Linked DNA regions of Homo sapiens. The protein of the gene in region 2 purifies or fractionates together with the protein of the main gene of each other region. This does not show direct contact. Each region holds a gene or a part of one and is shown on either strand. Other genes may lie near its edges.

Region 1 (8,200 bases), on a different chromosome or scaffold from region 2:
TGATTGTTTTTTAAGATGATTAAAGTTAGCTACCTTCACGTTATTGTACTTGCATATATTTTTACCTTATAGATTCAGAATAATTCCAGTACATTCTTAATTCAGTAAACAATTTGATTGAAGCCAACACACGGAGGCACTGTTCCAGTCACAGATTCAGCAGCAAATGAGACAAACTCTCTGCCTTGTGAAGCTTATATTCTACTGGGAGCATAGACAGTAAACATGAAAAATAAAACATGGTATATTAGTAAAAGTACTCAGGAAAAAAATAACGCAAGTAAGGGATAGAAAGTGTGGGGAGTACAATTTTAAAAGAAGTTGGCTGGAGAAATGCCTCACTGAGAAGGTGTTCTTTGAGTAAAGAAAAAAAAAGAGGCAAGAGAATAAGCTACGTAGATGTCTTGGAAGAACATTCCAGGCAGAGAGAACCTCAAGTACAAAGGCCATGGGGCAGGAACAAATGGGACTGCAGAAGAATGTTCCAGGGAAAGCGTACTAGGAGGTGAAGTCAGAACCTTGGGGTAGGGGAAAGACTATATAGTCTTGTAGGTTGTAGTAAGGACTTCAGCTTATATTCTGGGTGAGTCATATGGGAATTCTTTGAAAGATTTTGAGCAGAGGAATGGTATGATCTAACTTACATTTTGAGAATAGTACTCTGGCTTCTGAGTTTAGAATTTATTGTAGGGGTATGAGATGGAAGCAGGGAGACTAGATTGGCTATCCCATTTATCCACATGAGAGATGATATTGGCTTAAACCAGGATGGTAACAGTGGAGGTGGTAAGAAGTAGTTGAATTAGATTCACCTTTTTTGTAAGTCAAACCATTAGGATTTGCTGGTGAATTGCCTGTGGAATGTGTGAGAAAGAGAGGGGGGTAAAAGGGTGAATCTAAGGTTTTTGGTCAAAGCAAGTGGAATATATAGAGATGGGCAAGACTGGGTGAGATAGGATTGTGGAAGGATGATCTCAGTTTTGAACATGCTAAGTTTGAGGTATTTAACTGACACCTAAGTGGATCTGTTGAGGAAACAGTTGGATATACAAATCTAGTGTTTAAGGCAGACTTCCAGGCTTGAAGGAAAAATTTGGAAGTCATCACGACATATATGTGGTATTTAAAATTGTGAGGTTCAAGGACCAAGCCCCATACCATTTAGAGGCCAGGAATGTGAGGAAGAAGCAGAAAAAAAAAAAAAGACTGAAAAGGAATAGCCAGGGAAGTAGGAAGAAAACCTGAAGAATATGGTTTCCTGGAAGCTAAGTGAAGAAGTTTAAAGCAGAAGAGGGCTCAGCTGTGTTAAAGGCTGCCAGTGGGTCAAGGAAGAAGAGAACTGAGCTTTAATTGACCTTTGGATCTAATAGCATGGAAGTCATTGGAGACCCTGATGAGGAGAACAAGTTTATAGAGTGGTAGGAGACATAAGCCTGATTGTAGTGGGTTCAAGAGAAAATAGGAGAGAACTGGGAGACAGAGAGCCATAGACACCTCTTTCAAGGAGTGCCAAAGAGATAGAAAATAAATGGGCTATAGCTGAAAAGAAGATGCAAAGGAGGGAATGTTTTTTAAGATGAAAGAAATAACAGCTGGTTATGATGCTGAAGGGAATAGTTCAGAAGAGCAGGGAAAATTAATGAGGAAGGACGAGAGGGAAGAATTGGTAGAGTAGCACTTCCGTGTCCTTATAAAGACAGGGTGTAATGCATAAATGAAGGGGTTGGCCTCAGCTTGGAGCATCAACAGTTCATCCATAGTCACAGGAGAGAAAACAGCATGTGGCCACAGATTTGATTAGGTGGGTAGATGTAGCAGTGAGAGTCTGTGGAAATTATCTTTGGATTGTTGCTGTTTTGTCTGCAAAATAGGTCAGCTGCTGAGAATAAGTCTGGATGAGGAATGTTGGTGGTCTGAAGAGAGTAAAGTATGAAATCCAGAGGAGTGGGCCAGTGAGTGGACTAGTGCGGTGTGGTCTCTCTGCATCAGGGAGAGTCCATTTGAGGTAGCAATCACAAGTTTAAAGTGAGACACTCAACACAGTCATGTGTTTCTCACAGCAAATTCAGCTGCATAGGTACAGGTACAGATTAGGTGGAGAATTGGATAGGATAGAACCAGGCTGTGGTTGAGATGATTAAGTACAACCAAGTGAGACAACCAAGAGGGACTGAGTATGATTGCCTATGGAATTTAAGAGGAAGAAGACAAAGGTTTCTCACAAAAGCACTATAAAGTAGGTAATATAAGCAGTATTCCTGTTTTACAGATGAAGCCACTAATATAGAGCTTTCTTTTTTAAATCATACTTTAAATTCTGGGATACATGTGCAGAACGTGCAGGTTTGTTACATAGGTATACACGTGCCATGGTGGTTTGCTGCACCCATCAACCCATCATCTACGTTAGGTATTTCTCCTAATGCTATCCCTCCCCTAGCCCTCCATCCCCTGACAGGCCCCTGTGTGTGATGTAACCCTCCCTGTGTCCATGTTTTCTCATTGTTCAACTTCCACTTGTGAGTAAGAACATGCAGTGTTAAGTTTTCTGTTCCTGTGTTAGTTTGCTGAGAATGATGGTTTCCAGCTTCATCCATCTCCATGCAAAGGACATGAACTCATTGTTTTTTATGGCTGCATAGAACCACATTTTAAACCCAGATCTGTTAGCCTAGAAAATTTTTGTTGTTTCTCTTATGAGACATTATATTTTGCCTAATGATGGGTACGATGCTCAGCATCATACCCTTACCACCAACTCTTCTTTTTTTGAAGTGAAATGAAATGTTTAAATCTTTTTTGAAATGAATTTATCAATAGACTGAGTATAACCCCTGACAAGGAAGTATTATAGTTTAAGATGATAGGCAAAACTGGGCAGAGGCTGGCTAGTGTACTTGAAAGAGCACTGGGTGCTCGATTTGTGCTCTGCCATTCATTTGCTTCTCTGTAAGATGAGGGCTCAGACAATATCAGTGGTTCAAATATTCAGCTGAACTGGAAGTTCCAAGGAGTCCCTTCAGGGGCTGTCATAGCCTCCTCTACCAGAGCAGCTATGCTTTTTGCTTTCATCTACGCTTGTGTTTTTATATCTATATAAGATTTTATTCAAATGGATGACCCATGACCCCCTCACTACCTGCAGAAAGAATTTGAAAACCTCTAGACTAAATGATCTCTCTGGTTTCTTCTCACCTGAATGTTCTTTGAGCCTTGCCTACTGTGTGTGTGTGTGTGTGTGTGTGTGTGTGCATGCGTGTGTGTGTGTCTGTACTAAGCACTATGAGGATTACCTAGAAAGCATTTCTCTTTCTCTAAGACTTAAGGCAAATATGTATAAAAGATTAAATTTATGTAACATCAATAACTAAAAAACATACAATGCATTTTAAATCCAACTAAAGTACAGGCTCTTCAAAAGCTATTTTCTGTTTCTTTATATATTTTCAGCCTTAAGCCTGAAGATTTCTCAATTGAGGGTAAGGTGGTACTCACCCCTTAGGGGCATTTTATAAATCTGAAGACATGCTTTTATGTCTGCTAATATTGTCTCTGAGAATGTATGTATTGAAACAAGTATTTTGTTAAATTTTAAATTAGTTTCTTTATGGTACTCTTTTATATTACCAGTAAGAAATCATTTTTTAAAATGGTGTGTTGGTAGATTATGACTATCCTTTGATGTTGATGAAGAGGTATCACAAAATATTTGTCATAAGAAAGAGGTACTGGGTTTGATATGGTTGAGAACTACTGGTCCGTGTTCTATACTGTGGTACCCAGAAGTTTGGAAGTGATGGTAGTATAATCATGTATCAGATTGAGTGGTAGATATTGCTAATGATGTGTGAAATTAGAAAAAGTAAAGATTGTTCTGGACTTGGGTAGCCATGAAATCTTCAGTGGGAGGAGAGGATTGTTAGAGGGGATCTTACATTCAGCATTATGATAAACCCTTGACATGACATACCTTATCTTGAAGAAATGAATGACCAGACTTGTCCGAGAGACTAAGAAGGTACTTTCCAAGTAGGGTAAGTCATAGAATTTAAAGCTGGAAAGGCCCTAAGAATCACCTAGGCCAGACATTTTTAGTTCAGGGTTGTTGCCCTTTGAAGTTCATGGATGGATTTCAAGGAACTTGTGAATCACTTGACATTGTGTGTATCATTTAGCATGTCTTTCTGAGGGGAATTGGGTTCCTCGTTCTCATTCTCAAAAAGGCCCATCATCTCTAAGAGGTTAAGGCCTGCTGATCTAGTGTGGTCCCAGACTGAGGTAGATGGTTTGCTCAAGGTTACACAGCCAGTTAGGGGCAGAGATGAGGATTGACACCCAGTGACTTCCAGTTTCTTTCTCATTTCACTGTACTCAACTAAATTACATGAACAAAGGCACAGGCAGGATTAAGCTACCATTTTATATTAGATGGTATAAAAACAATCAACTAGCCTGGGGTCAATTGAATTAAGTCTGTCAGTCTGTTTCTACAAAAGTTGCAGAAGGATGGGCTTCAGTTTGTCTCTTCAAAGTGAACTAATATTTTGATTTTTCTGGTTGAAATATGCTACAACTCACCGAAGTAGCTTTCTCAGTTGAAGGTAAGCTCCTTAAAAAATGTTCCTATTCTTGGGCCGGGTGTGGTGGCCCCCGCCTGTAATCCCAGCACTTTGGGAGGCCATTGAGGGCAGATAGCTTGAGTCCAGGATTTTGAGAACAGCCTGAGCAACAATGGCAAAACCCCGTCTCTACAAAAAATGGAAAAAAACTAGCCAGGCATGGTGATGCACATCTGTGTTCCCAGCTACTCGGGAGGCTGAGGTGGGAGGATCTTTTGAGTCCGGGAGGCAGAGGTTGCAGTGAGCTGAGATCATGCCACTGCACTCTGGCCCGTGTGACAAAGTGAGACCTTGTCTCAAAAAAAAAAAAAAAAAAAAAAGAAAGAAAAGAAATATTACTATTCTTGAGCCTGTTTCTGCGGTTTCTTTCCAATGGCACTGTTTTTCTAACCTGCAGCAGCCCCCAGCTTTCCACATAATCCAATCAAAATTACTTTGCCTGATTTGTTAGATTTTGTAACTACCGTAGCGTATTTAGTCAAGCGTATTTAGCGTATTTAGTGTATGCTGTGCCCCAGTCAGACTAGTGTCCTTGCTATTGGTACTTCCTATTCTCCCAAAGTCCTTTCATTCCCACCTTCGTATCTTTTTTCATATGGTCCCTGAGCCTGGAATACCTTCCATTCCTCTTTCATTTCTAGATGCCCAACATAAGGTCCAGCTTAAATCTAATCTCCACAAAGCCTCTCCTAGTTACTCTTGGCCATTTTGCACTTCCTCTGAACTCCTTTTGCATTTATTGCTTATACTACTGCCTACACTGCACATGGTAGTTATGTATTAGTTATGTATTACCACAAGGCTTTTCAGTGGAAATGCTTTAGTGGTCACCTTGGGAGTTGGGATTCCGGGAATTCTGGGGCAGGACTCTGGACATCCCCAAACCCTGTTTTGGCCAGAGCAACTCCACTTTAGTGTTATATATGGGCAGTTTCCAGTAGTGTTTATTAGAAGAGATGGTTTAATTGCACCCCCTGTCCCCGTTCCCCCAAACAGTTGCAAAAATACTGGATCTATCTTGTGTGATAGTTGACTCATAAGTGTTAACTTATAATGGCCAAGGGCCAGGAATTAATACTACTTCAGACTTGTATTACCACTCCTAGGCAACTGGTGCAGTTTTGAGCACAAAGTGGACATGTAGGAAATGATTTTACAATTGTATTGCTCCCATGTGGGAAATAGTAGATAGTAAATAGCATTACCTGAGAAATTTACCTTAATGAAGAACTCAGAATAAGGTTTCTGGGTTGACCTTTGAGAAATAAATCTAAGTTGATAGTTTCTGCCCCACCCCCCCCTTTGGATATAAACCTAACACTATTTAAAGATGTCTAGTTTACATGCACATGTTTAAGAGAAATCTTATTATTGGCATACCCTATTCTACCAAAGTTTTGACAAACTTAAATATCATATTCATGCATTTGTGTAAGCATTAAGGTTGTTATTCAACTCACAGAATGATATGCAGAGTACCAGTACACCTAGAAACCTAGAAAAAAATAAATTCAGAAGTTGATGTGCTCAAAGACATTTACGTCAATAATGATTACAAATGGAAAATGCCAGCCTTTCAGACCAGTTATTTCAGCTTTCTGTAATTAATTGTGTAAACTAATAAAGACCTGAGTATTTAAATCAATTGTGCTATCAACTTGTTAATATTCTTTTGTTTTTGTTTTTTGTTTTTTGTTTTTATTTTTCCTGCTCTCTGCTTGGTTCATTGTCATCACCTACAGGCGTACTTTATTGTCGGCTTCCAAAGATTACTAACTTTTATCTGTATCACTAAGATTGAACTGCCTTGGCTGTACTGCTATTCTTACTGCTGCTTCTATTATTGCCTTCTTCAGCACAATAAGGCTTTCAAAAGCCAAAGAATAACAAGAAATAAGCACCATTTTAGAAGCCTTTCCACTATGAAACTTAAGCTAAATGTGCTCACCATTATTTTGCTGCCTGTCCACTTGTTAATAACAATATACAGTGCCCTTATATTTATTCCATGGTATTTTCTTACCAATGCCAAGAAGAAAAACGCTATGGCAAAGAGAATAAAAGCTAAGCCCACTTCAGACAAACCTGGAAGTCCATATCGCTCTGTCACACACTTCGACTCACTAGCTGTAATAGACATCCCTGGAGCAGATACTCTGGATAAATTATTTGACCATGCTGTATCCAAGTTTGGGAAGAAGGACAGCCTTGGGACCAGGGAAATCCTAAGTGAAGAAAATGAAATGCAGCCAAATGGAAAAGTTTTTAAGAAGGTAAAGTATTTTGGTGCTTTTCATTTATGTTTTAAAGAGGAAGACACATTTGTTTTATCATAAATCGAGTGCGTTTTAAGTATGCTGGCATTCTATTATAGTGCTGTGTAAAACTACTCAGAAGCCGCTCATAGCTTCTGTATGTTCATTTAAGAGCATTTTTAGAGTTTTATGCTTTGGATAGTATTTTAATTGCTTGTTTGAATATACTAATATTAGAGAATGTATCACTTTAACAGTTAATTCTTGGGAATTATAAATGGATGAACTATCTTGAAGTGAATCGCAGAGTGAATAACTTTGGTAGTGGACTCACTGCACTGGGACTAAAACCAAAGAACACCATTGCCATCTTCTGTGAGACCAGGGCCGAATGGATGATTGCAGCACAGACCTGCTTTAAGTACAACTTTCCTCGTAAGTGCCTTGTGTTTTTGGAGGGGGGAGAGGAGGGTCTTTGCTTGCATGTGAGAATTGTTTTGAGATGCTCTTGTTTTCACAGTAGGTGTTGTTTAGCCATTTTACACATTAATTATGTCCATAATACGGCATGTAATATTGTGGCTAAAAGATATCCGATGACTCCTGTTAAGTATGGTAACTTGTAAGAACTAATATGGGAATTGGCAGCTTTAAGGGATGTGATTTACACTTTTATTTTCCAATTGGAAATGAATTGTAACTGAAAGAGTTGGAGTTTGGGGGTATTTTGGGGGGGTGATATACAAAGAGTAATGATTAAAAGAACAAAAAACCATTTCTCAGGATAATTCAAATTCATTGCTTCACTTTGAGACCTCTTATTTGACTTATTCTATTTTACGTGTGAAATATGCATGTGACAGCTGGAATTGGCATTAGATATGTTAGAAAGTAAAATTGAGTATATTTCTAATACTCAAGCATTTGTTGTTGCCATTGTTTAAGAAATAAACAATGTATTGTCACATACTAAGTACTCTGTTGTTTGTTGAATGAAATATAACACTGTAAGTTAGGATTATAGAGCTTAAATTTCAAACAAAAAATAGATAATATGAAAATGATCCCCTATGTACCCATTACCCACTTTCAACGATGAACAGCTTGTGAAAGTGGCTATTTTTAACCACATTGTTTCTGGTTACCAATCTAGAGCTGAATTTTCAGTTCTTTCTAAGTTTAGCAGATGTCCTTTGATTCTAACTGATCTTGGTTTATGTTATCTCTGGTGGCTCCTAAGGAGTAGATCTCCTTGATCTCTCTAATTAAGGTGTGGAGGTCACCAATCACATTGGACATTGGACTCACTAAAACAGCTTCTTAGAA
Region 2 (8,200 bases):
TGCAACCTCTGCCTCCCGGGTTCAAGTGATTCTCCTGACTCAGCCTCCCGAGTAGCTGGGATTACAGGTGTGCGCCACCACACCTGGCTAATTTTGTATTTTTAGTAGAGACAGGGTTTCTCCATGTTGGTTAGGCTACTCTCAAACTCCTGAGCTCAGGTGATCCGCCTGCCTCGGCCTCCCAGAGTGCTGGGATTCCAGGCGTGAGCCACCACACCTGGCTTTTTTTTTTTTTTTTTTTTTTTGAGACAGAGTCGCCCAGGCTGGAGTGCAATGGTGTGATATCCAGTCACTGCAACCTCCACCTCCTGGGTTCAAGTGATTCTCCTGCCTCAGCCTGCTGAGTAGCTGGGATTACAACTGCTTGCCACCATGCCCAGCTAATTTTTGTATTTTTTGTAGAGACGGGTTTCACTATGTTGGCAAGGCTGGTCTCAAACTCCGGACCTCAGGTGATCCACCTGCTTCGGCCTCGCAGAGTGCTGGGATTATAGGTGTGAGCCACCACGCCTGGCCCAATATCCCCATTTCTTGATAAAGAACCATGGCAACACAGGGTCAAAACCCCTCTTCCCCTCATCATTCTAATAGATTGATGCTGTAGGGAGGAAGAAATATTTTTTCTTCTTAGATTCATGGCTGAAGCCCCTATAACAAAAACCCTTATAAGAAAAGAAGCCACGTGCTGGGTGCGGTGGCCACGCCTGTAATCCCAGCACTTTGGGAGGCGGAGGCGCGATCATGACTCACTGCAACAGCTGCCTCCTGGTTCAAGCAATTCGCCTGCCTTAGCCTCCCAAGTAGCTGGGATTACAGGTGCCCGCTACCACACCCAGCTAATTTTTGTATTTTCAGTAGAGATGGGGTTTCACCATGTTGGCCAGGCTGGTTACGAACTCCTGACCTCAAGTGATCTGCCCATCTTGGTCCCCCAAAGTGCTGGGATTACAGGTATGAGCCACTGTGCCCGGCCTATAAGTTTATTTTTTTATGTTTATTTATTTTTATGTATTATTTTGAGACAGAGTCTCACTCTGTCACCCAGGCTAGAGTACAGTGGCACAATCTCAGGTCACTGCAACCTCTGCCTCCTGGCCTCAAGCAATTCTCCTGCCTCAGCCTCCCAAGTAGCTGGGATTACAGGTGCATGCCACCACGCCCAGCTAGTTTTTTGTATTTTTAGTAGAGACAGGGTTTCGCCATGTTGGCCAGGCTGGTCTTGAACTCCTGACCTCAAGCGATCTGCCCGCCTTGGCCTCCCAAAGTGCTGGGATTACAGGTGTGAGCCACCATGCCCGGCCAAATATTTTTTGTAGAGATTAGAGTCTCACTACATTATCTGGGCTGGTCTTGAACTCCTGGCTACAAACAGTCCTTTGCCTTGACCATTCAAAGTGCTCATGTTACAAGCATGAGCCACTGTGCCAGCCCCCATGTGTTTTTTGTTTGTTTGTTTGTTTTTTCTGGAGATGGAGTCTTGCTTAGTCTCCCAGGCTGGAGTGCGGTGGCGCGATCTCGGCTCACTGCAAGCTCCGCCTCCTGGGTTCATGCCATTCTCCTGCCTCAGCCTCCGGAGTAGCTGGGACTACAGGCACCCGCCATTACGCCCAGCTAATTTTTTTGTACTTTTACTAGAGACGGGGTTTCATCGTGTTAGCCAGGATGGTCTCGATCTCCTGACCTCGTGATTCGCCCATCTCGGCCTTCCAAAGTGCTGGGATTACAGGCGTGAGCCACCGCACCCGGCCTCTTTTTTTTTGAAACCGAGTTTCGCTCTTGTTGCCCAGGCTGGAGTGCAATGGCGCAATCTCGGCTCACAGCAACCTCTGCCTCCTGGGTTCAAGCGATTCTCCTGCCTCAGCCTCCCGAGTAGCTGGGATGACAGGCATGCGCCACCATGCCCGGCTAATTTTGTATTTTTGGTAGAGACGGGGTTTCTCCATGTTGGTCAGGCTGGTCTTGAACTCCCGACCTCAGGTGATCCGCCTGCCTCAGCCTCCCAAAGTGCTGGCATTACAGGTGTGAGCCACCATGCCCAGCTAAAGTTCTAGCTTTTTAATGAATGTCGTAATTTTTTTTTTTTTTTTTGATGTGGAATCTCGCTCTGTCACCTAGGCTGGAGTGCAGTGGCTCGATCTTGGCTCACTGCAACCTCTGCTGCCCGGGTTTAAGCTATTCTCCTGCCTCAGCCTCCCCAGCAGCTGGGACTACAGGTGCCTGCCACCACGCCTGGTAATTTTTGTACTTTTAGTAGAGACGGGGTTTCACCTTGTTGGTCAGGCTGGTCTTGAACTCCTGACTTCAGGTGGTCCACCTGCCTCAGCCTCCCAAAGGGCTGGGATTACAGGCGTGAGCCACCGCACCCAGCCCCATATTTATTTTTTCGTCTTTTCTTTTTTTTTTTCTTTTTTGAGAAGGAGTCTCACTCTTTGACCAAGGCTGGAGTGCAGTGGCACTGTGTTGGCTTACTGCAACCTCTGTCTTCTGGGTTCAAGCACTTCTCCTGCTGCAGCCTCCCGAGTAGCTGGGATTACAGGTGCCCATCACCACACCTGGCTAGTTTTTATATTTTTAGTAGAGACGGGGTTTCACCATGTTGGCCAGGCCGGTCTCGAACTCCTGACCTAAGGTGATCCACCCGTCTCGGCCTCCCAAAGTGCTGGGACTACAGGCGTGAGTCACCACGCCTGCCCCTTTTTTTCTTTTTTGAGACACAATCTCGCTCTGTCACCCGGGCTGGAGTACTGTGGTGCAATCTCGGCTCACTGCAACCTTTGCTTCCTGGGTTCAAGCGATTCTCCTGCCTCAGCCTCCCAAGTAGCTGGGACTTCAGGTGCATGCCACCATGCCGGGCTAATTTTTGTATTTGTTGTAGAGACAGGGTTTCACCATATTGGCCAGGGTGGTCTTGAACTCCCGATCTCAAGTGATTGACCTGCTTTGGCCTCCCAAAGTGCTGGGGTTACAGGCGCAAGCCACCAGGCCTGGCCTGTTCTTTTTTTTTTTTTTTTTTTTTTTTTTTTTTGTGGAGACAGAGTCTCGCTCTGTCACTCAGGCTGGAGTGTAGTGGTGCGATCTCGGCTCACTGCAAGCTTCACCTCCCGGGTGCACACCATTCTCCTGCCTCAGTTCCCGAGTAGCTGGGACTACAGGTGACCGCCACCACGCCCGGCTAATTTTTTGTATTTTTAGCAGAGACAGGGTTTCACTGTGTTCGCCAGGATGGTGTCAATCTCCTGACCTGGTGATCCACACGCCTTGGCCTCCCAAAGTGCTGGGATTACAGGCGTGAGCCACTGCGCCCGGCTGTGGCCTGTTCTTTTTTATTTTAAATTGTTTTCATCTATTTATTTTCTTAATAATGGAGATGGGGTCTCTCTGTGTTGCCCAGGGTGGTCTCGAACTCCTGGGCTCTAGTGATCCTTCCGCCTGGGCCTTCCAAAGTGTTTGGATTATAGGTCATCAAGTTTCATTTTATGCCACTAAACCACTATGCTGTGCACCGTGGCTCATGCCTATAATCTTAGCACTTTTGTTTTGTTTTTGAGACGGTGTCTCGCTCTGTCGCCTTGGCTGGAGTACAGTGGTGCAATCTTAGCTCACCGCAACCTCCGTCTTCCGGGTTCAAGCGATTCTCCTGCCTCAGCCTCTTGAGTAGCTGGGATTACAGGAATATACCACCACGCCCGGCTAATTTTTGTATTTTTAGTAGAGACGGGGTTTCACCACCTTGGCCAGGCTGGTCTCGAACTCCTGACCTCAAATGATCCACCTGGGTTGGCCTTCCAAAGTGCTGAGATGACAAGCGTGAGCCATCGCGCCTGTTTTTTTTTTTTTAACCTTTTTTTTTTTTTTTTAACACAGCCTTGCTCTGTCATCCAGGCTGGAGTGCAGTGGCACAATCTTGGCTCACTGCTACCTCTGTCTCCCAGATTCAAGCTATTCTCCTGTCTCTGCCTTCCAAGCAGCTGGGAATACAGGCACGTGCCATCATACCTGGCTAATTTTTGTGTTTTTAGGAGAGATGGGGTTTCACCATGTTGGCGAGGCTGGTCTTGAACTCCTGACCTCAGATGACCTGCCTGCCTCGGCGTCCCCAAGTGCTGGGATTACAGGCGTAGTCACTGCGCCCAGTCAGCAGAGCCCTGCTGATGGACGTTTGGTTTCCCGGTCTTGCTGTGGCACGCCACATAGCAAGGGATCCCTTTGTATATTTTAGGATTTTATTTTGTGTAACAGGATAGGATTTTAAGCTGGGGAGAGGCAGGATCAAAGGCACATTCTGTAAAGCTCCTTCTGGCTGCTGTATAAACAGACCGGGAAAGTCACGTGGGAGTTAGCAAGACGGGGGATGGGGGGATGCTCTTGGGGAAGTCCAACTTGTCCCCATGTGACGGCAGGCTTTCCCCAAGCATTGCGGGCTTTCCCAGTGATGTTGCCCCCATCTCACCATCAGGCTCGGACATCATCATGCAGCTGGACGACGTGGTTAGCAGTACTGTGACTGGGCCACGTGTGGAGGAGGCCATGTACAGGTGTGTATATGCTGTGTGCATGTGTGGGATATGTGGTGGGAGGGGATCCTGGTCCCTGTAGCCTTGTCTCCTACCCCCTCACCAGGCCCCTGGGGCTTGTGACTGGGGCCCTGTTGCAGGTCAATCCGCTGGCTGGACCGGTGCATTGCAGCCCATCAGCGGCCGGACAAGCAGAACCTCTTCGCCATTATCCAGGGTGGGCTGGACGCAGATCTCCGGGCCACCTGCCTTGAAGGTAGAGCCATGCGCTGGCAGGCCCAGGGCTTGGCCATCGCGGAGGTCCCCACATGGGCCTGGCGTATGGCGGGACTGGATTGCTAATGTGTAGAAGGGCACTGCGCTAGAAAAAATAGCCGGAGCAAAGGCTCTCGGGCCACGTGCAGTAGAATGTATTGAGAGAATGGCCATGATTCCAGTAGTTAATGATCTTCTAGGTTTTTTGTTTGTTTGTTTTTGTTTTTTTTTTTGAGACGGAGTCTCAGGTGATCCACCCCCCTTGGCCTCCCAAAGTGCTGGGATTATAGTCATGAGCCACCGCGCCCAGCCTATTTATGTATTTATTTATTTTACTTTTTTTTTTTTTGGAGGGTGGAGTCTTGCACTGTCGCCCAGGCTGGAGTGCTGTGGCGCGATCTCGGCTCACTGCAACCTCTGCCTCCCTGCAACCTCCGCCTCCCGGGTTCAATCTATTCTCCTGCCTCAGCCTCCTGAGTAGCTGGGACTACAGGCACCCGCCACCAGGCCCGGCTAATTTTTGTATTTTTAGTAGAGACAGGGTTTCACCATTTTGGCCAGGCTGGTTTCAAACTCCTGACCTTGTGATCTGCCTGCCTCGGCCTCCCAAAGTGCTGGGATTACAGGCGTGAGCCACCGTACCTGGCCTCTTTATTTATTTTTGAGACACGGTCTTACTCTGTTGCTCCTCCTGGAGTGCAGTGGCTAGGTCAAAGCTCACTGCAGCCTCAAACTCCTGGGATCAAGCAGTCCTGCTTCAGCTTTCCAAAGTGCTTGGAATATAGGTGCACGCCGGTGTGTCCAGCCATGCATTACCTTTTACATGCAATGCTTTCTGGTGTTTTCTTTTCTCTTTCATTTAAAAACAACGACAACAACCCGTGCGTCATCAAAGTCATTTCTCAACCACCTGCAGTTTGACAAGCACCGCCCCATGGGGTGCTTCTCAAAGTGCTCTGAGGCTTACCTGCCCCAGCACAAACTACTGAAAGTCCTGGTAAAATGCAGCTCCCCTTCCCATGATCCGACCAGAGTTGGAGCTAGGGAAGGCCTAGGAATCTGCATGTAAACACCCTGTGTCCAGTTGGAGGATGCTCACATTACCTTCAAAACCTGGCCCCAGACAACGCCTGCATTCCTTTTTTTTTTTTTCTTTTTTTTTTTTTTTGAGACGGAGTTTCGCTCTTGTTGCCCAGGCTGGAGTGCAGTGGCGTGATCTCAGGTCACTGCAACCTCCACCTTCCGGTTTCAAGTGATTCTCCTGCCTCAGCCTCCTGAGTAGCTGAGATTACAGGCATGCACCACCATGCCTGGCTAATTTTTGTATTTTTAGTAGGGACAGGGTTTCACCATGTTGGCTAGGCTGGTCTTGAACTCCTGACCTCGTGATCCACCCCCACCTTGGCCTCCAGAGTGCTGGGATTACAGGCTTGAGCCACTGCACCTGGCCAACACCTGCGTTCTTGATGGCATGGCCTCTTCGGGTTGAACTGGGCAGCTGGGGCACAAGATAAGCCTGGACTTGGAGGCCAGACCCAGGTTTGAATCCAGCCTTTGGCATATGTAGCCTTGGACTAGTGGTTTAAGCTCTGCAAGCCTCAATTTCCTCTTGTTTCAGGCAAGTTGAACAATAGCACAATTCTGCAGCCCCTTCTGTGTCATCCAGGTCCTCAGAGCGAAAGTCTAAAATCCAGAACATTGGCCGGGTACCATAGCTCACACCTGAATCCCAGCACTTTAGGAGGCCAAGGCAAGAGGATTGCTTGAGACCAGTCTGGGTGACATAGTGAGATCCCATCTCTAAAAAAAGAGAATTGGGCCAGGCACGCTGGCTCACGCCTGTAATCCCAGTACTTTGTGAGGCCAAGGCGGGCAGATCACGTGGTCAGGAGTTCGAGACCAGCCTGGCCAACATGGTAAAACCCCGTTTCTACTAAAAATACAAAAATTAGGCCGGGCGTGGTGGCTCGCGCCTGTAATCCCAGCACTTTGGGAGGCTGAGGCGGGCAAATCATTGAGGTCGGGAGATCGAGACCAACCTGGCTAACACGGTGAAACCCCATCTCTACTAAAAAATAGAAAAAATTAGCTGGGCGTGGTGGCGGGCGCCTGTAGTCTCAGCTACTCGGGAGGCCGAGGCAGGAGAATGGCGTGAACCTGGGAGACAGAGCTTGCAGTGAGCCGAGATTGTGCCACTGCACTCCAGCCTGGGCAACAAAGTGAGACTCCATCTCAAAAAAAAAAAAATTAGCCAGGCATGGTGGTGGGCACCTGTAATCTTAGCTACTCGGGAGGCTGAGGCAGGAGAATCATTTGAACCCGGGAGGTGGAGGTTACAGTGAGCTGAGATCACACCACTGCACTCCAGCCTGGGCGACAGAGCAAGAATCTGTCTCAAAAAAAAAGAAAAAAAGAAAATTAGCACGCAAGCATGGGAGTGTGTGCCTGTGATCCTAGATACTTGGGAGGCTGAGGTGGGAGGATCGCTTGAGCCCAGGGGTTGGTGGCTGCAGTGAGCTATGATGACATCACTGTACTGCAGTCTGGGTAACACAGTGAGACCCTGTCTCAAAAAAAAAGAAGAAAAGAAAAGAGAAAAAACTTAGAATGCCCTGAAAAATTTGCAACTCATTTCATGGCTAACTTAGATCTCTCATTTTTTATCCCAGTTGTTACAAGTATTCACATATTTTTATTTTTATTTATTTTTTATTTTTTTGAGATGGAGTTTTGCTCTTGTTGTCCAGGCTGGAGTGCAGTGGCACCATCTCGGCTCACTGCAACCTCTGCCTTCTGGTTTCAAGCGATTCTCCTGCTTCAGCCTCCCGAGTAGCTGGGATTACAGGCACCAGCCACCACGCCTGGCCAATTTTTGTATTTTTAGTAGGGATGGGGTTTCACCATGTTGGCCAGGCTGGTCTCGAACTCCTGACCTCGTGATCCACCTGCCTTGGCCTCCCAAAGTGCTGGGATTACAGGCGTGAGCCATGTGCCCAGCCTATTTTTATTTTTTAAATTTTACTTTGGCCGGGCGTGGTGGCTCATGCCTGTAATCCTGGCACTTTGGGAGGCTGCAGTGGGCGGATTACCTGAGGTCAGGAGTTCAAGACCAGCCTGCCCAACATGGCGGAACCCTGTCTCTATTAAAAATACAAAAAATTAGCCGGGCATGGTGGTGGGCGACTGTAGTCCCAGCTACTCGGGGGGCTGAGGCAGGAGAATCACTTGAACCCGGGAGGCGAGGGTTGCAGTGAGCCAAGATGGTGCCATTGCACTCCAGCCTGGATGACAAGAGCAAAACTCCATCTCAAAAAAAAAAAAAAAAAAATTAAGTTCTGGGATACATGTGCAGAACGTGCAAGTTTGTTACACAGCTATGAATGTGCCATGGTGGTTTCTGCACACATCAGCCCGTCATCTAGGTTTTAAGC
Region 3 (7,139 bases), on a different chromosome or scaffold from region 2:
TCCCCTCTGACCTACCTCAATAGTTCTACCCGCAAGGATGTGCTGGGTGGTGTGGCTAATGGGATGCGGGGAGCTGTCCTCCCCTGTAGCCATCATGGCCAGGATATTTGGTCCCTTTGGGCAGCCACAGTGACCTGCAGCTTCTCTGGTGAGTCCTGGGGAGCCGGGTCTGTGGTTTCCCTTTCTTTCCTCTCTAATGAGCGTATAAGATCGGGAAACCACAGGACCTGACATCACTCACAGGGTCTGGGGGTTCCTGCCTTGGCGTTGAAACCCTTAACGCAGCTCTGGGGGCTCGTGCCGCCATGTTCTCACCCGGTTCTGACCATCCACACCCGCCTCCCTGCTTCTCTGTCTTTGTTGTTTACCTGGTGAGCATACCTGCTCTATCTTCACCTGTGTGTTCTCACTCAAGGCTGCTGTTTCTCAACTGGGGCAGTTTTGCCTCCTGGGGGACATTGGGCAATATCTTGAGACAGTTTTGCTTGTTGTGACTGGGGGGTGGATGCTACTGGCATCTAATGGGTAGAGACCAGGGATGCTGCTGAATATCCTACAGTGCACAGGGCAGGTCCACCTCCCGATGAGAAATTATCTGGCCCAAATAGCAACAGTGTGGAACCTGCTCTAGGATTACACAAGAACCTTCTTGAAGCAGCTGTTGGGTACCCCCTTCTCTGTACCCTGCCGGCCAGCAGTGGGGAGGAGCACTCAGTGGTCGGTGGTCACTGACCAGCAATGCCGCCGCCAGAGCTGGAGAAGGGCCTGGAGTGGAGCGGAGAGAGCTCTGGACTCAAAGACCCAGTTTCTAGCCCAGCTCTGTTGCTTTGGGCTAAAAACCTGGATAAATCACTTTCCTTCAATAAACTTGTTTCCTCATCCATAAAGTGAAAGTGCTGCACTGAATATCCCCTCCAGTTCTTTGAGATTCCTGGATGCTGTGCGTAGAGCCAGGAGTCGGGGTGCAGGCAGGTGGAAGATGGGGTCCCCTCCGTTCCTGACTGGTGTCCCTGCTGGTGGCAGTAGAAGCCTGAAGGATTTGCCAGGAACGAGAGTTCGTTTGAAGCTTGGCCTTTTTCCCTTCTATGCCCAACGTGACTGAGGCAGAGTCTACCTTCTCTTTTTCTTTTTCTTTTCTTCTGCTGCTTCTTTTTCTCTTTCTTTCCTTCCTTGCTTTTCTTTTCCTTTCTTCCTTTCTTCTCTTCCTTTCCTTTCCTTCTTTCCTTTCTTTTTCTTTCTCTCTTTCTTTTTTTCTTTCCTTATTTCCTTTCCTTCCTTCCTTTCCTTCCCCTCCCTTCCTCCCTCCCTTCCTCCCTCCCTCCCTTCCTCCCTTCCTGTTTTCTTCAGAGTTTTGCCTAGGAGCCCATGGCTGGCCAAGAGGGTCATATATGATATTCAGGAGTCAGCAAACTACAGTCCATGGGCCAAACCCAGCCTGCGTTTGCTTTTGTAAATAAAGATGTGGCTTTTTGGTGGTTTTTTTTCTTTTACTGGTTTATTACAAAAGATACGACTCAGGAACAGCCAAACGGAAGAGCTGCATGAGGATGCGTGGGGTCAAGTGTTGGGGTGGGGGGCAGGGCACGCACCACCTTCCTGGCACCTCGATCTGCTCACCAACCCAGAAGTTGTCTGTAAATAAAATGTTATTGGAACATAGCCATGCCTACTTGTTTACATGTTGCTATGGCTCCTTTCTTTCTTTTTTTGATTTTGTGTAGAGATGGGGTCTCACCGTGTTGCCCAGGCTGGTCTGGAACTCCTGGGCTCAACTGATCCTCCTGCCGTAGCCTCCCAGAGTGCTGGGATTACAGTTGTGACCCACTGTGCCCGGCCAACGGCTAGTTTTATACTAAGAAGACAGTTGAGTAGCTGTGACAAAAACCCTATCAGCCACAAGGCCGAGAATATTTACTCTCTGGCCCTTTGCAAAAAGTGTTTGCTGACCTTTGGTCTAGCGGTTCAATGTCTAATTGTTTAGAGGTTGAGGTGGGGCAGGAGGGTGGGGCCCAGAGATAATCCAAGTTAGAGTTAGGGGAAGGTCACTTTCCTAAGGGTAGGGAGGAGAGAGAGCTGACCTATGACCCAGAGTAGAGTATCATCTCAAGGCATCCCTCACGTCCTCGCCCACGTCACTGTGTGGCAAGTCTGCCAGGTGCCTGGCTCCCCCTCCCTGCCCGAGAGAACTTTGTGTTTGCTGGAATGATAAGCGGTATGGCGTGGGCACTGGGAGGGGGGACATTGCTGGTGGGGGAAGCCATGAGGCTGGGCAGCAGAGGCTTGAGAGAACAGGGAAGCGGATGGGGGTGAGGATGCAGAGAGGTCAGGCTGGGAGCCCTGGAGCCAGGCTGTGGGCAGAAGGGGAGGAGAGGAGGGAGGTGCTGGACTTCCAGTGGGTGCTTGGAGGCGGTTGGAGGCGGACCATGTGTCACACCCTGCTGGACCAGACTCGGTGGTAAACAGACCTGTTAAAACCCTCTGGATGGACCAGGCGCGGTGGCTCACGCTGATCCCACGTCCTGATCCCAGCACTGGGAGGCCGAGGTGGGTGGATCACCTGAGGTCAGGAGTTCGAGACCAGCCTGACCAACATGGTGAAACTCCATCTCTATCTCTACTAAAATTACAAAAAAAAAAAAAAAATAGCTGGACGTGGTGGTGTGCACCTGTAAATCTCAGCTACTCAGGAGACTGAGGCAAGAGAATCGCTAGAACCCGGGAGGCAGAAGTTGCAGTGAGCCAAGATCATGCCATTACACTCCGGCCTGGGGGACAGGGCGAGAATCTGCCTCAAAACCCTAGAAGTTTGTACTGCAGTGGGAAGATGAGAGTCCAGCCAGCAGGGACAGAATAATGTAGCCAGTATCTGCTGGAAGAGGGGACATCTCCCAAAGTGCCGTGGGGGGCAGGTGGTGGCTAAAGGTTTCCTGGGAGTAGTGATGTGTCCCAGCTGAGCCCTGAAGGATGCTGGGTGTGGCAGGGGTTGCATTGGGGAACTGTTTGTATCCACTGCAGCTCAGGGGATAGATCAGGGTACAAAAGTAGGGGACACTGAGGAGCGAGGTGGGGACTAGTCATTGGATCAAGGGGTCTGCACTGGGTAGGGCGTCATGTGGATGGGTTTTGTTTTAGCCAAGAGGTGAAGGATGGACAGGAGGGAGACCAACAGGGAGACCTGTCAGGCTGATGTCAGGGGCCAGGTGGGGTGTGGTGGGCTTGTGTGACGCAGCGGCAGGCATGCGGAGGAAGCACCCAGCATCTGAGTTTTGCAGTGGGAAGAGTGGGTCTGGACTGGGGGTGCCTCTCAGAACTGTGCTGCTGGCTGGACTGGGAGGCAGGCAGGTACCTGGTGTCCAAGCATCACCTCTCACCCACCATACTTTGTTAAATCCCTGCACCCATCTCTCCCCAACCTGCCCAGCTCTGCTGGGCTTAGTATTTGGGGCAAGCCCCTCTAGGGAAGAGAGGGGCTGGTTTGGCCCCAATGCTGAACTTCAACTTGGCCCTTGTCAGGAGCTGTGAGAGTGGTGCCTCCAGGCTCCTGGGCTCTACCTCTGCTGTTTTTTGGATTTCTGGTGAATCACCTAGGAATCAGTCTGCAGATCCTGGGGGGACGAAGTCATTTAGGGTCCAGTCCCTGCCTCCCACTCCCCTAATGATGAAAGAAACTGGAAGTTGCCCAATCTTGATCTCCCCGAGACACCAGAAGGTGGACCCTCAGCAAAGAGCCTGGGGCTCCACAGTGGAGACGTCACAGGCGGGATCCTCATTTATGGGATACCAAGCGAAGGCTGAAAGGCTGGGGAGCTGGTTCTGTGGGTCCCAGCAGCCCCACCCCAGTTCTGATTCAGAAAGAGGACTGTGCCGCCCACGCAGGGGGAGGAGCTGGTCAGCCTCTGTCTCCCTGAGCCCGTCCTGTCCTTTCCCTTCTCTCTCTGAGGACCAGGACTCAGGGTGGGGTGTCCACTAACTCCACAGGGATCGAGGTTAGACAGCAGGAAGAACTTACAGCACATCTCCAGGCTGACTGTTCATAGGAGCCAACTCATAGACTCCATCTCTTCCCTGGCTTGCTGCCTGGAATTGCTGGATTTACCTTCGCGTCCTTAAATGTGGTCATGTTTACTCTGGCAGCATCCTGGCTTGCAGGGGCAGGGGAGGCATTGTCTTCTGCAAGAAAGGTTCTGTCTCTCTCAAGTTTCAGGGAAAGTGTGTCCGAGGCTACTGGAACTCTAACCAGATTTGCAAAATCACTCCTCTACTCTGAATGCCTGCGGATGAAGAAACAGGCAGGGTTATACCATGGATTGCTGGCTTATTTCACAGCATTTAACTTTGGTAGGAGCGCTGGGGTTTAAATGACAGTCCCCTGGCAAAGAGGCTTTTGTGCCGTGTGGCCAGCCCGCGTTAATCCTTTGCCTCTCATTCTCTGCTTGCAGCCTTATGATCTCCTCATTGCGTCCCCCTCTGCCCACTGGACTTGGACTTCAGATCTGACCCCAGACCTGCCGGCTACCTCGGGAGGGCCCACCTCCCCGCCCATCCAGCAAGATGCCAATCCTCAAGCAACTGGTGTCCAGCTCGGTGCACTCCAAGCGCCGTTCCCGAGCGGACCTCACGGCCGAGATGATCAGCGCCCCGCTGGGCGACTTCCGCCACACCATGCACGTTGGCCGGGCCGGAGACGCCTTTGGGGACACCTCCTTCCTCAATAGCAAGGCTGGCGAGCCCGACGGCGAGTCCTTGGACGAACAGCCCTCTTCTTCATCTTCCAAACGCAGTCTCCTGTCCAGGAAGTTCCGGGGCAGCAAGCGGTCACAGTCGGTGACCAGGGGGGAGCGGGAGCAGCGTGACATGCTGGGCTCCCTGCGGGACTCGGCCCTGTTTGTCAAGAATGCCATGTCCCTGCCCCAGCTCAATGAGAAGGAGGCCGCGGAGAAGGGCACCAGTAAGCTGCCCAAGAGCCTGTCATCCAGCCCCGTGAAGAAGGCCAATGACGGGGAGGGCGGCGATGAGGAGGCGGGCACGGAGGAGGCAGTGCCCCGTCGGAATGGGGCCGCGGGTCCACATTCCCCTGACCCCCTCCTCGATGAGCAGGCCTTTGGGGATCTGACAGATCTGCCTGTCGTGCCCAAGGCCACGTACGGGCTGAAGCATGCGGAGTCCATCATGTCCTTCCACATCGACCTGGGGCCCTCCATGCTGGGTGACGTCCTCAGCATCATGGACAAGGAGGAGTGGGACCCCGAGGAGGGGGAGGGTGGTTACCATGGCGATGAGGGCGCCGCTGGCACCATCACCCAGGCTCCCCCGTACGCCGTGGCGGCCCCTCCCCTGGCAAGGCAGGAAGGCAAGGCTGGCCCAGACTTGCCCTCCCTCCCCTCCCATGCTCTGGAGGATGAGGGGTGGGCAGCAGCGGCCCCCAGCCCCGGCTCAGCCCGCAGCATGGGCAGCCACACCACACGGGACAGCAGCTCCCTCTCCAGCTGCACCTCAGGCATCCTGGAGGAGCGCAGCCCTGCCTTCCGGGGGCCGGACAGGGCCCGGGCTGCTGTCTCAAGACAGCCAGACAAGGAGTTCTCCTTCATGGATGAGGAGGAGGAGGATGAAATCCGTGTGTGAGGCGGACAGTGGGTGGCCACCGGGAGCTCTTGGCTGCATCTTCTCCCTGCCCCCACCCCACTATGACCTTTGACCCTACGGCGCAGGGGCAGCCAGGACCCTTGATTCAGACCATGGACCCTGGACCTTGTAGATGAGGGACACTGGCCTGGCCCTCGGGTCTTCGGAGGACGTAGGGGGCTGGCATGGGTGCCGACTGGCTGCCTGACTTCATCATGCTCCCTGCACTTAGGCTGCGTGGGACAAGGGCTGTGTTGTCACAGCAGGAATAGGTTTTCCTCTGTTGGCCTCCCTTTCCTCCACCCTGGCCTCAAATGGATGCCAGATGCCAACCCCAGTTCTGGCCACGTACAGCCAGCGGGTCAGCCCAGAGGCAGCCTCAGCTCCAGGGCTAAGGACTCTCGGCTCCCATTTTCTCTGCTGGCGTTTCTGCTGTGCCCAGCAGTGGCTGCTGGGGAAGCAGCTGCAGCAGGAGGGAGACGGTCTTGCCTCTCAGCCCCTCCCTGCCCCACCCCAGCTCCTGCCCTGGAAATCTGGAGCCCCTTGGAGCTGAGCTGGACGGGGGGCCAGCTGCGAGCATGTGCACTAAACGCAGCCCTTTCCAGGGGAAGAGAACAGGATGGAGAATGGAAGGAAAGCCCCCCAGGCTTCGTGAATTGCAAGAAGGGACCCTTCCAGGATGACACTAGGAACAGGGCTAGGGCACTCGCTCAGTCCCTAGGGGCTTGTTTGTTCTTTATTATTGTGTTTAAATCCTTATAGAGCAATATCAGGATGGTGTTAATAGGTCTGCCTCAGAATGAGAATCAATCCTTTTAGAAAACCTTTATACTAAGCCTCCTCTTCAAAATTCACAGTGGCGATTAGCGGACTGGAGTCTGGTGGCGATTAGCGGACTGGAGTCTGGGGACATCCGTGGCAAAGACACCAGCTCAACTTTAGTGCTTCCCAACTTTATTTAGAATGACATGGGGTGGGTGTCTGGTGTGTGTGTTTTCCCTACGCACCTCCCATAGCTATTAACAACTGAGGAAGGCCAGTGCAGAATATTTTTGGAGAACGATTTTTTTTTTAAATAATATATCATTCCTATGGGGGGAAAGCCTTTTTTTTCTTTTTGGCTGAGTTATTCCCTCCCTCCCCTCAATACCCTCAGTACTGACTACTTCCCTTTCTTTTCTCAGGCCTCCCCCCACCGACTTTTGAGGCCAGGGTTGGCCAGATTTAGCAAAACCAAAACAGAGTGCTGAGTTAAACGCAAATTTCAGGTAAACAAAAGATAATTTTCTAGCATTAATATGCCCCACGCAATATTTGGAACACTTATGTGAAAAATGATTTGTTTTTCTGAAATTCACGTTTCTCTCTGAGTCCTGTAACTGTCCCCGAGGGGATTGAGCAGAAGCTCGGGTATGAGCCCTGAGGTTGACTGCCGGTTATTTTTCTGTCCTGGGAACAGCCTGACCCACCTCCCTGTCTCCATGTAGCCAGTGAGGGGAGGGGGAGACACAGAACCA
Region 4 (8,200 bases), on a different chromosome or scaffold from region 2:
GAAGTCGGTGCAGAAGTTCTGACATTTAGTTAAAATAGCAGAACTGTCAGTATAAAACAACCGTTTTTAAAGTGAGGAAGAAAAGAGCAAATACATCAAAACAGTATGTCCTCTTTTTTATTTTTTTTGAGACGAGGTTTTGCTTTGTCACCCAGGCTGGAGTGCTGTGGCGCAATCTTGGCTCACTGCAGCCTCCGCCTCCTGGATGGGTTCAAGTGATCCTCAGCCTTCTGAGTAGCTGGGACCACAGGTGCACACTGCCACACCCAGCTAATTTTTTGTATTTTTGGCAGAGATGGGGTTTCACCATGTTGCCCAGGCTGGTCTCAAACTCCTCAGCTCAAGTGATCTGCCTGCCTCGGCCTCCCAAAGTGCTGGGATTACAGGTGTGAGCCAGCGTGCCCTGCCCTAGGATATACTTTTTATTTGGTTGTAAAAAGTATGTGGTAGTTAAAAAAATAGATTTGGGACTTAATTCTGAGTTAGGTTACTGGCCCTGCCATCTACTAGCCTAATGATTTTATGCAAGTTTTAACTCTGAGCCTCTGTTTCCTCATCTACCAAATGGACATGTTTGAGGCTACTTGCCTCATAGAGTTGTAAGAACTTGAGGTGATGTATGAAGCTCTTAGTGTAGTACTGGAGACAAGGTCAAGTGCTTGCAGTCTCTGAAATCCTTGGTGAAACAGGCACCCTTTACCACGGTGTCAGTGCTAATGGAAATGATAGGCTGGAGTTTGAGAATGTAGCTGAACCTCCATTGCCTGTGTCAGTGCTAATGGAAATGATAGGGTGGAAGTGGAGAAGGTAGCTGTATCTCCATTGCTTGTATCTGGTATTGTTATCCTCATGCTGCTTTGTCACATCCTCCTCGCTTGTACTTTCTTCAGTCTCAAGATATCTATGCCTCTATGACTTTTATAGTGAGGTATAGTTTACGAAGTCACTTCCATACATATCTTATTTGACATGACACGATAGCTTAAAATGGAGGTGGGGAACAGGTTAGGTGAAGGTCCTACAGATATTATTGGCAACAGTACTTTCTTTCTTTTTATTTTATTTATTTTTTGAGACAGAGTCTCACTCTGTCACCCATGCTGGAGTGCAGTGGCACGATCTCAGCTCACTGAAAACTCTGCCTCCCGGGTTCAAGCGATTCTCTTGCCTCAGCTTCTCTAGTAGCTGGGACTACAGGCATGCACCACCACACCCGGCAAATTTTTGTATTTTTAGTAGAGATGGGGTTTCATCATGTTGGCCAGGCTGGTCTCAAACTGACCTAAGGGTATCTGCCCACCTTGGCCTCCCATCGTGCTGAGATTACAGGCATAAGCCACCGTGCCTGGCCTCTTTTTTTTTTTTTTTTTTTTTTTTTTTAAATTTTTTTGAGACAGGGTCTTGCTCTGTTGCCCAGGCTGGAGTGCAGTGGCATGATCTTGGCTCATTTGGCCTCGTGGGCCCAAACTGTCCTCCCACCTCAGCCTCTTGAGTAGCTGGGACCATAGGCTTGCACCACCACACCCGGCTAATTTTTTTTTTTTTTTTTTGGTAGAGATGGGTTTTCACCATGTTGCCCAGGCCGGCCTTAAAATACGGGGCTCAAGTGATCCTTCTGCATTAGCCTCCTGAGTAGCTAGCATCACAGGCACCTGCTATTACTCCTGGCTATTTATTTATTATTTATTTTGAGACAGAGTCTCGCTCTTTCGCCCAAGCTAGAGTGCGGTGGCGTGATCTCGGCTCACTATAAGCTCCGCCTCCCAGGTTCAAGTTATTCTCCTGCCTCAGCCTCCCACGTAGCTGGGATTACAGGCATGTGTCACCATGCTTGGCTACTTTTTGTATTTTTTGTAGAGATGAGGTTTCGCCATGTTGGCCAGGAGGGCCTCAAACTCCAGACCTCAGGTGAACCACCTGCCTTGACCCCCCAAAGTGCTGGGATTACAGGCGTGAGCCACCGCGCCTAGCCAAAAAGAAAAAGTTGAAAGGATATATATTTGCCCTTATTTATGAAAGACTTGAAAGAAATTCACGAAAGTATAAAAAAGTCAGTGCCAGTGGGATTGTGGGTAACAATTTTTTTTTCTTTTTTTCTTTTTTTTGGAGATAGCCTTGCTTTGTCTCCCAGGCTGGAGTGCAGTGGTGTAATCATAGCTCACAGTAGCCTCAAACATCTGGGCTCAGGGGATCCTCCATCTCAGCATCCCCAGTAGCTGTGGCTACAGTTGCATGCCACCACGCCTGGCCAAATTTTAAAATGTTTTGTAGAGGTGGGGGTCTTTCTGTGTTGCCCAGGCTGGTCTTGAACTCCTGTCCTCAAGTGACCCTCCCACCTCAGCCTCCCAAAGTGTTGGGATTATAGATGAGAGTCACCAGGCCCAGTCCTAACTTTTTTTTTTTCTTTTTTTTTTTTTTTTTTGAGACAGAGTCACACTCTGTGGCGCAGGCTGGAGTGCAGTGATGCAGTCCCAGCCCACTGCAGCCTCGACATCCTGGGCTAAAGCAATCGTCCCACTTCAGCCTCCTGAATAGCTAGGATGCCACCACAACTGGCTAATTTTTTTTTTTTTTTTTGCTAGAGATGGGGTTTCTCTGTTGCCTAGGGTGGTTTCAAACTCCTGGGCTCAAGCAGTCTGCCTGCCTCAGTCTCCCAAAATGTTGGGATTATAGGCGAGAGCCACCTCGCCTGGCCCCTCACCCTTTTTTTTTCTATCAAATGTTACTGAATATAGCTTTTTACATTTAATGTTGTATCATGATTACTTTCCCTTGTTAGGAAATGATAATGTGAAAATGGCTCTCATATCAGATCTAGTTTGAAGCCCCAGCTTTATTAGCTATAGTCTGCTTGGCCTCAGGTAGTCATTTCTCCTCTGAACTGGTGTCTTCATCGCTACCGTGGGGCTGCTTCTCTTAACCACACTGAGCTGAGCGAGGGTCAGAAATCATAGGTAAAGCCCTTGGCACATAACCTAGTTCTTGGAAGACTCTGAAAACTGGGAGTTGTGATGCTGTTGTTATTATCATTATTATTATTATTACTATTTTTGTTTTGTTTTGTTTTTTGCGATAAAGTCTTGCTCTTGTCCCCCAGGCTGGAGTGCAATGGTGCAATCTCCGCTTACTGCAACCTCTGCCTCCCAGGTTCAGGCGATTCTCCTGCCTCAGCCTCCCAAGTAGCTGGGATTAACAGATGCCTGCCAGCAAGCCTGGCTTATTTTTGTACTTTTAGTAGAGACGGGGTTTCACCATGTTGGCCAGGCTGGTCTCAAACTCCTGACCTCAGGTGATCCGTCCGCCGCGGCCTCCCAAAGTGCTGGGATTACAGGCGTAATCCAGCCTTATTATTATTATTTTTGAGACAGTCTTGCTCTGTTTCCCAGACTGGAGTGCAGTGGTACAACCCGGCTCCCTGCAGCCTCTGCCTCCTCGGTTCAAGCACTTCTGCCTCAGCCTACCAAGTAGCTGGGATTACAGGCACACACCACCACACCTGGCTAATTTTTGTATTTAGTAGATATGGGGTTTCACCATGTTGGCCAGGCTGATCTTGAACTCTTTCTATTTATTTATTTTTTTATTTATTTAATTTTTTTTTTTTTTTGAGATGGAGTCTCGCTGTCGCCCAGGCTGGAGTGCAGTGGCGTGATCTCGGCTCACTGCAGGCTCCGCCCCCTGGGGTTCACGCCATTCTCCTGCCTCAGCCTCCCGAGTAGCTGGGACTACAGGCGCGTGCCACCTCGCCCAGCTAATTTTTTGTGTTTTTAGTACAGATGAGGTTTCACCGTGTTAGCCAGGATGGTCTCAATCTCCTGACCTTGTGATCTGCCTGCCTCGGCCTCCCAAAGTGCCGGGATTACAGGTGTGAGCCACCGCGCCCGGCCTTGATCTCGAACTCTTGACCTCAGGTGATCTGCCTGCTTTGGCCTCCCAAAGTGCTGGGATTACTGCCATGAGCCATCGTGCCCAGCCGATGCTGTTTTTATTGTTTAAAATAGTCTTCAAAAACCTGTTTTTCATGGCATTGTATCATCAAATGAAATGATGATGCAAAGGTTTAAAAAAAAGGAATGTACTATTTATGTTGGGGGGGGAACTGCTATCAGGTTGCAATCGAAACATTTTCTGGAAAAAAAAAACAAAACAACAAGAAAACCTGTATTGTGGTGGCCTAAGTATAAATGAAAGCCTAGCAGGTTTCCATTCTGCTGCAAAGCAGCTTCATGCTGGACCAATTAGAAAAGACATACTTTTAAAATTAAAACTTTATTGAAATGTAATATACATGGCTAAAAATTACTCATTATAAGCAAACAACTCAGCGCATTTCCAGAACGTAGACACACTCATGCAGCCCGCAGGAAATGAGGCAGAACCATTACCAAGCCCCTCCAGAAGCACCCTAAGCCTCACCTTCCCTCAAGTCCCAGGAAAGCCCCTTTCTCCTGAGAGTGGTCACTGTCTTCACCTCCGTCACCACAGATGATTTCCCCCTGCATTCCAGTTTGTTTTACATGAATATGGCTGTGATTCATATACGTTGTTTTATGTGGCAGAAATTGTGTGTTCATTTTCCCTCATCCTCTCCCTCTGCAGTCCTGCTCCACTGAGGATTCTGCCAGAGAATGAAGCCCTAATGTGCTAAGGCATCCATTTATGTAGTTGAGTTAATGTCTCCTGTGCCTCTAGGAGGGTAGTCATCATATACTGTCCTTGAGAGAATTGAGAAAATAGATACTGAAGACATTTTCCGTGGGTTTAATTCTCTCAGAGAATTCCAAGAAAGGCTGGGAGCCTTAGCTTTTCTGGCTTTTACCATTGACCCACTCTTGTAGATTCCAGGAGATGACCTCTGTTATCTTATCTGGCTTTTCTAATTGTTCTCTGTGAGAATGTTGGTTTGCTGCAAGCCACTCCAGCCCACCAGGAAGTGGAAATCCAGCAAACATGTTTTCACCACATAGCCAAGCTCCTAAGAAAATAAGGGAAATTCCCAGGGGCCCAAAAAAGGGAAGAAGGAGCTGAAACTCCATTGGGGAAAGAACAGGGAAGCCAGGGCTTCCCTGTGACGTTGCAGAAACTTGAAGCCCAGAGGCCTGGGTTTTTTGTTTGTTTTGTTTGTTTGTTGTTGTTGTTTTTGAGACAGAGTCTCACTGTGTCACCCAGGCTGGAGTGCCATGGCACGATCTCGGCTCACTGCAACCTCTGCTTCCCGGGTTCAAGTGATTCTCCTGCCTCAGCCTCCCAAGTAGCTGGGATTACAGGCATGTGCCACAATGCCCGGCTAATTTTTTTGTATTTTTAGTAGAGACAGGGTTTCCCATTTTGGCCAGGCTGGTCTCGAACTCCTGACCCCAAGTGATCCTCCTGCCTCGGCCTCCCAAAGTGCTGGGATTACAGGCGTGAGCCACCACGCCCGGCCGAGTCCTGGGTTTTTAACAGATGTTGAGGGGAAACAGGGACCATAGCCTTAGGCCTGAGCAGGGAGGTGAGTTGGAACTGTGTCCCTCTGCTTCTCAGCCCATAATCTAGGGCTGTCAAAAAGCTATGAATGCAAGAGTGGGCAGGAAAGAAAATCCTGCTAGTGATAGTGCAGTGTGGTGTAGTTCTGTGGGGGAGAGGAGGGGATTTAGTTTATGCTGTTTCTGCCAAAGATCTGCTCCACAGCCTGTCCTCACAGGCCTTTGGTGTTTGCCATTAGACTACCCGGGATGTCCAGGAAACCCCAAATCTAGAAATAAAAAGTTACCCTTCACACCAAGAATCAAATTGCAGACTTACGGAAGGTGTTGCAATTTAGCCAAATCTCAATATAAAAATTGTTACACAACATAAAGTGTGTTTGTGGAAGCCCAGTTTTAGAAGTGTTCACTGACACCATTGCTCTGTTGGCCCTGCAGTGTACTGACTTAGTTGAGATTGGAGTCAGGATGTTGAGACAGCATCAAGCAGGTGGGGTAGGCGTCTGCCCATGTGATTCAGTCTCACCAAACCTTAGGATTATCTTGTATCCAAAAGACTCTGTCTCCATGTCGCTAATTCCTATTCCTGGGATTCCTCTTGCATAAGGCTTTGTTCCCTGAAAACCCATCATCTACTGTATCACTTTTAGGTGAAAATTCACCTTTTTAAATAATTGACTTATAGCTTAGCTTCATTCTTTATCCTGCCAATGGGAGGAGCCAGGTACACACAAATTGATAAGAGGATTTATATAAATGAGTGTATTCTTGGAACAGCTTCAGCCGCTCCTTTTCTTCCTCCCCACCCCCCAGCATGTTTTGAGTGCCTACTAGATGCCAGGCATTGTACTATCAGGAAGGATGTGGGGATGACGATAACATGGTTCCTCCTGCCCTGGAATTCACATTTCAGCCAACCACTGAGTTTGCCCCTAGAACCCATACCAATGCATTGGAGTGAATTTGAATCCATTGAATACTTCCTTCTGCAGAAACTGTTGATATCTTTTGGATTTCCGATGAGTTGTCTTCAGCTTTTGGAGAAAGACATGTTACCACAGCTGTGTATGTTACTGAGCATATGGAAACATTGGCTGGCTAGCAAGAAATAAGATATCATAGTTTTTCTCTTCTTTTCTTTTACCTTTTTTTTTTTTTTTTTTTTTGAGACAGAGTCTTGCTCCGTCACCCAAGCTAGAGTGCAGTGGCATGATCTCGGCTCACTGCAACCTCCACCTCCCAGGTTCAAGCAATTCTGCTGGCTCAGCTTCCCAAGTAGCTGGGATTACAGGTGCCCGCCACCATGCCCGGCTAACTTTTTGTATTTTTAGTAGAGACAGGGTTTCGCCATGTTGGCCAGTGTGGTCTCAAACTCCTGACCTCAGGTGATCCACCCGCCTCAGTCTCCCAAAGTGGTGGGATTACAGGCTTGAGCCACCGTGCCCAGCCTGATATCATACTTTTTAAAGCAAATGAATAGGTTAAATAATCAAAAGCACTTTTCCATATGACTAATTCCACCACTACAAATCTCTTTAGGATGATGTGAGGCATAAAGTTCATCTGAACACCTTTGGCTTCTTCAAGGATGGGTACATGGTGGTGAATGTCAGTAGCCTCTCACTGAATGAGCCTGAAGACAAGGATGTGACTGTAAGTACCTTTTAATGAGATCCAGGGGTTTACTCTTTTTTTTTTTTTTTTGAGATGGAGTCTTGCTCTGTCACCCAGGCTGGAGTGCGGTGGCGCAATCTCAGCTCACTGCAACCTCCACCTCCCGGGTTCAAGCAGTTCTCTGCCTCAGCCTCCCGAGTAGCTGGGATTACAGGCACCCACCACCATGACCGTCTAATTTTTGTATTTTTAGTAGAGACGGGGTTTCACCAACTTGGCCAGGCTGGTCTTGAATTCCTGACCTCGTGATCCACCCGCCTTGGCCTCCCAAAGTGCTGGGATTACAGGTGTGAGCCACTGCGCCCAGCCCAGGGGTTTACTCTTTTAGCTTAGGTGAGAGTCACCTTCCAACCCCAATGCTTAAATATAAAATACCAGAATATGGAGATAATTAAGCATGTGAGTAGCAAATTATATATCAGGCATCAAATAATTTCACTTTTAACACTTAAAATGTAATTCTGTAATAATTCTAGTAATTAGTGACTTTGCTTGAGTGATTTTACTTTGCCTTCTTACAAAATGAATGCTAAGAAAACAGAGGAGACCACGTTAGAAGTACCACTTTTTCTGCTTTTTGAGTAAGAAAAGTATGGACAATTGTGTAGATATTTACTTCTACTGTTTTTACTCCCCATTAGATTGGATTTAGCCTAGACCGTACAAAGAATGATGGCTTTTCTTCTTACCTGGTGAGTATTAAATGTGTGACCTGATTCATCTCTTCACCTGAGCCCAGGCCATTGAACGGGAACACCCTACTTCTTGCAGTTCCATTTTCATTTTTTTTTTGGAGTACGGTGGCACAATCATAGCTCACTGCAACCTTGACCTCCCAGGCTTAAGCGATCCTCCCGCCTCAGTCCCCTGAGTAGCTGGGACTACCAGCGTGTGCCACCACGCCTGCCTAATTTTTGTATTTTTAGTAGAGACAGGGTTTCACATTTTGTTGGCCATGTCTCAAACTCCTGGACTCAAGGGATCCACCCACTGTGGCCTCCCAGAGTGCTAGGACTGCAGGCGTGAGCACCACGCCTGGCCACAGCGCCATTTCTTGAGGT

The links.
Region 1: the proteins of QTRT1 (region 2) and ACSL4 purify together in Homo sapiens (affinity purification with mass spectrometry; one large-scale study listed by BioGRID and IntAct). This does not show direct contact.
Region 3: the proteins of QTRT1 (region 2) and CDC42EP4 purify together in Homo sapiens (affinity purification with mass spectrometry; one large-scale study listed by BioGRID and IntAct). This does not show direct contact.
Region 4: the proteins of QTRT1 (region 2) and GPR107 purify together in Homo sapiens (affinity purification with mass spectrometry; one large-scale study listed by BioGRID and IntAct). This does not show direct contact.

What each region holds. Positions count from the first base shown.
Region 1 is NC_000023.11:109,681,828-109,690,027, reverse strand, and holds part of ACSL4 (long-chain-fatty-acid--CoA ligase 4), read left to right. Parts: intron 1-4,583; exon of another isoform or gene 4,584-4,601; intron 4,602-6,361; exon of another isoform or gene 6,362-6,541; coding exon of another isoform or gene 6,542-6,664; coding exon 6,665-6,892; intron 6,893-7,131; coding exon 7,132-7,309; intron 7,310-8,200. UniProt on the Homo sapiens protein: Catalyzes the conversion of long-chain fatty acids to their active form acyl-CoA for both synthesis of cellular lipids, and degradation via beta-oxidation. Preferentially activates arachidonate and eicosapentaenoate as substrates.
Region 2 is NC_000019.10:10,702,846-10,711,045, forward strand, and holds part of QTRT1 (queuine tRNA-ribosyltransferase catalytic subunit 1), read left to right. Parts: intron 1-4,456; coding exon 4,457-4,535; intron 4,536-4,654; coding exon 4,655-4,770; intron 4,771-8,200.
Region 3 is NC_000017.11:73,283,913-73,291,051, reverse strand, and holds part of CDC42EP4 (cdc42 effector protein 4), read left to right. Parts: intron 1-4,439; 5' UTR 4,440-4,551; coding exon 4,552-5,622; 3' UTR 5,623-7,139. UniProt on the Homo sapiens protein: Probably involved in the organization of the actin cytoskeleton. May act downstream of CDC42 to induce actin filament assembly leading to cell shape changes. Induces pseudopodia formation, when overexpressed in fibroblasts.
Region 4 is NC_000009.12:130,068,632-130,076,831, forward strand, and holds part of GPR107 (protein GPR107 isoform 3 precursor), read left to right. Parts: intron 1-7,004; coding exon 7,005-7,118; intron 7,119-7,780; coding exon 7,781-7,831; intron 7,832-8,200. UniProt on the Homo sapiens protein: Has been proposed to act as a receptor for neuronostatin, a peptide derived from the somatostatin/SST precursor.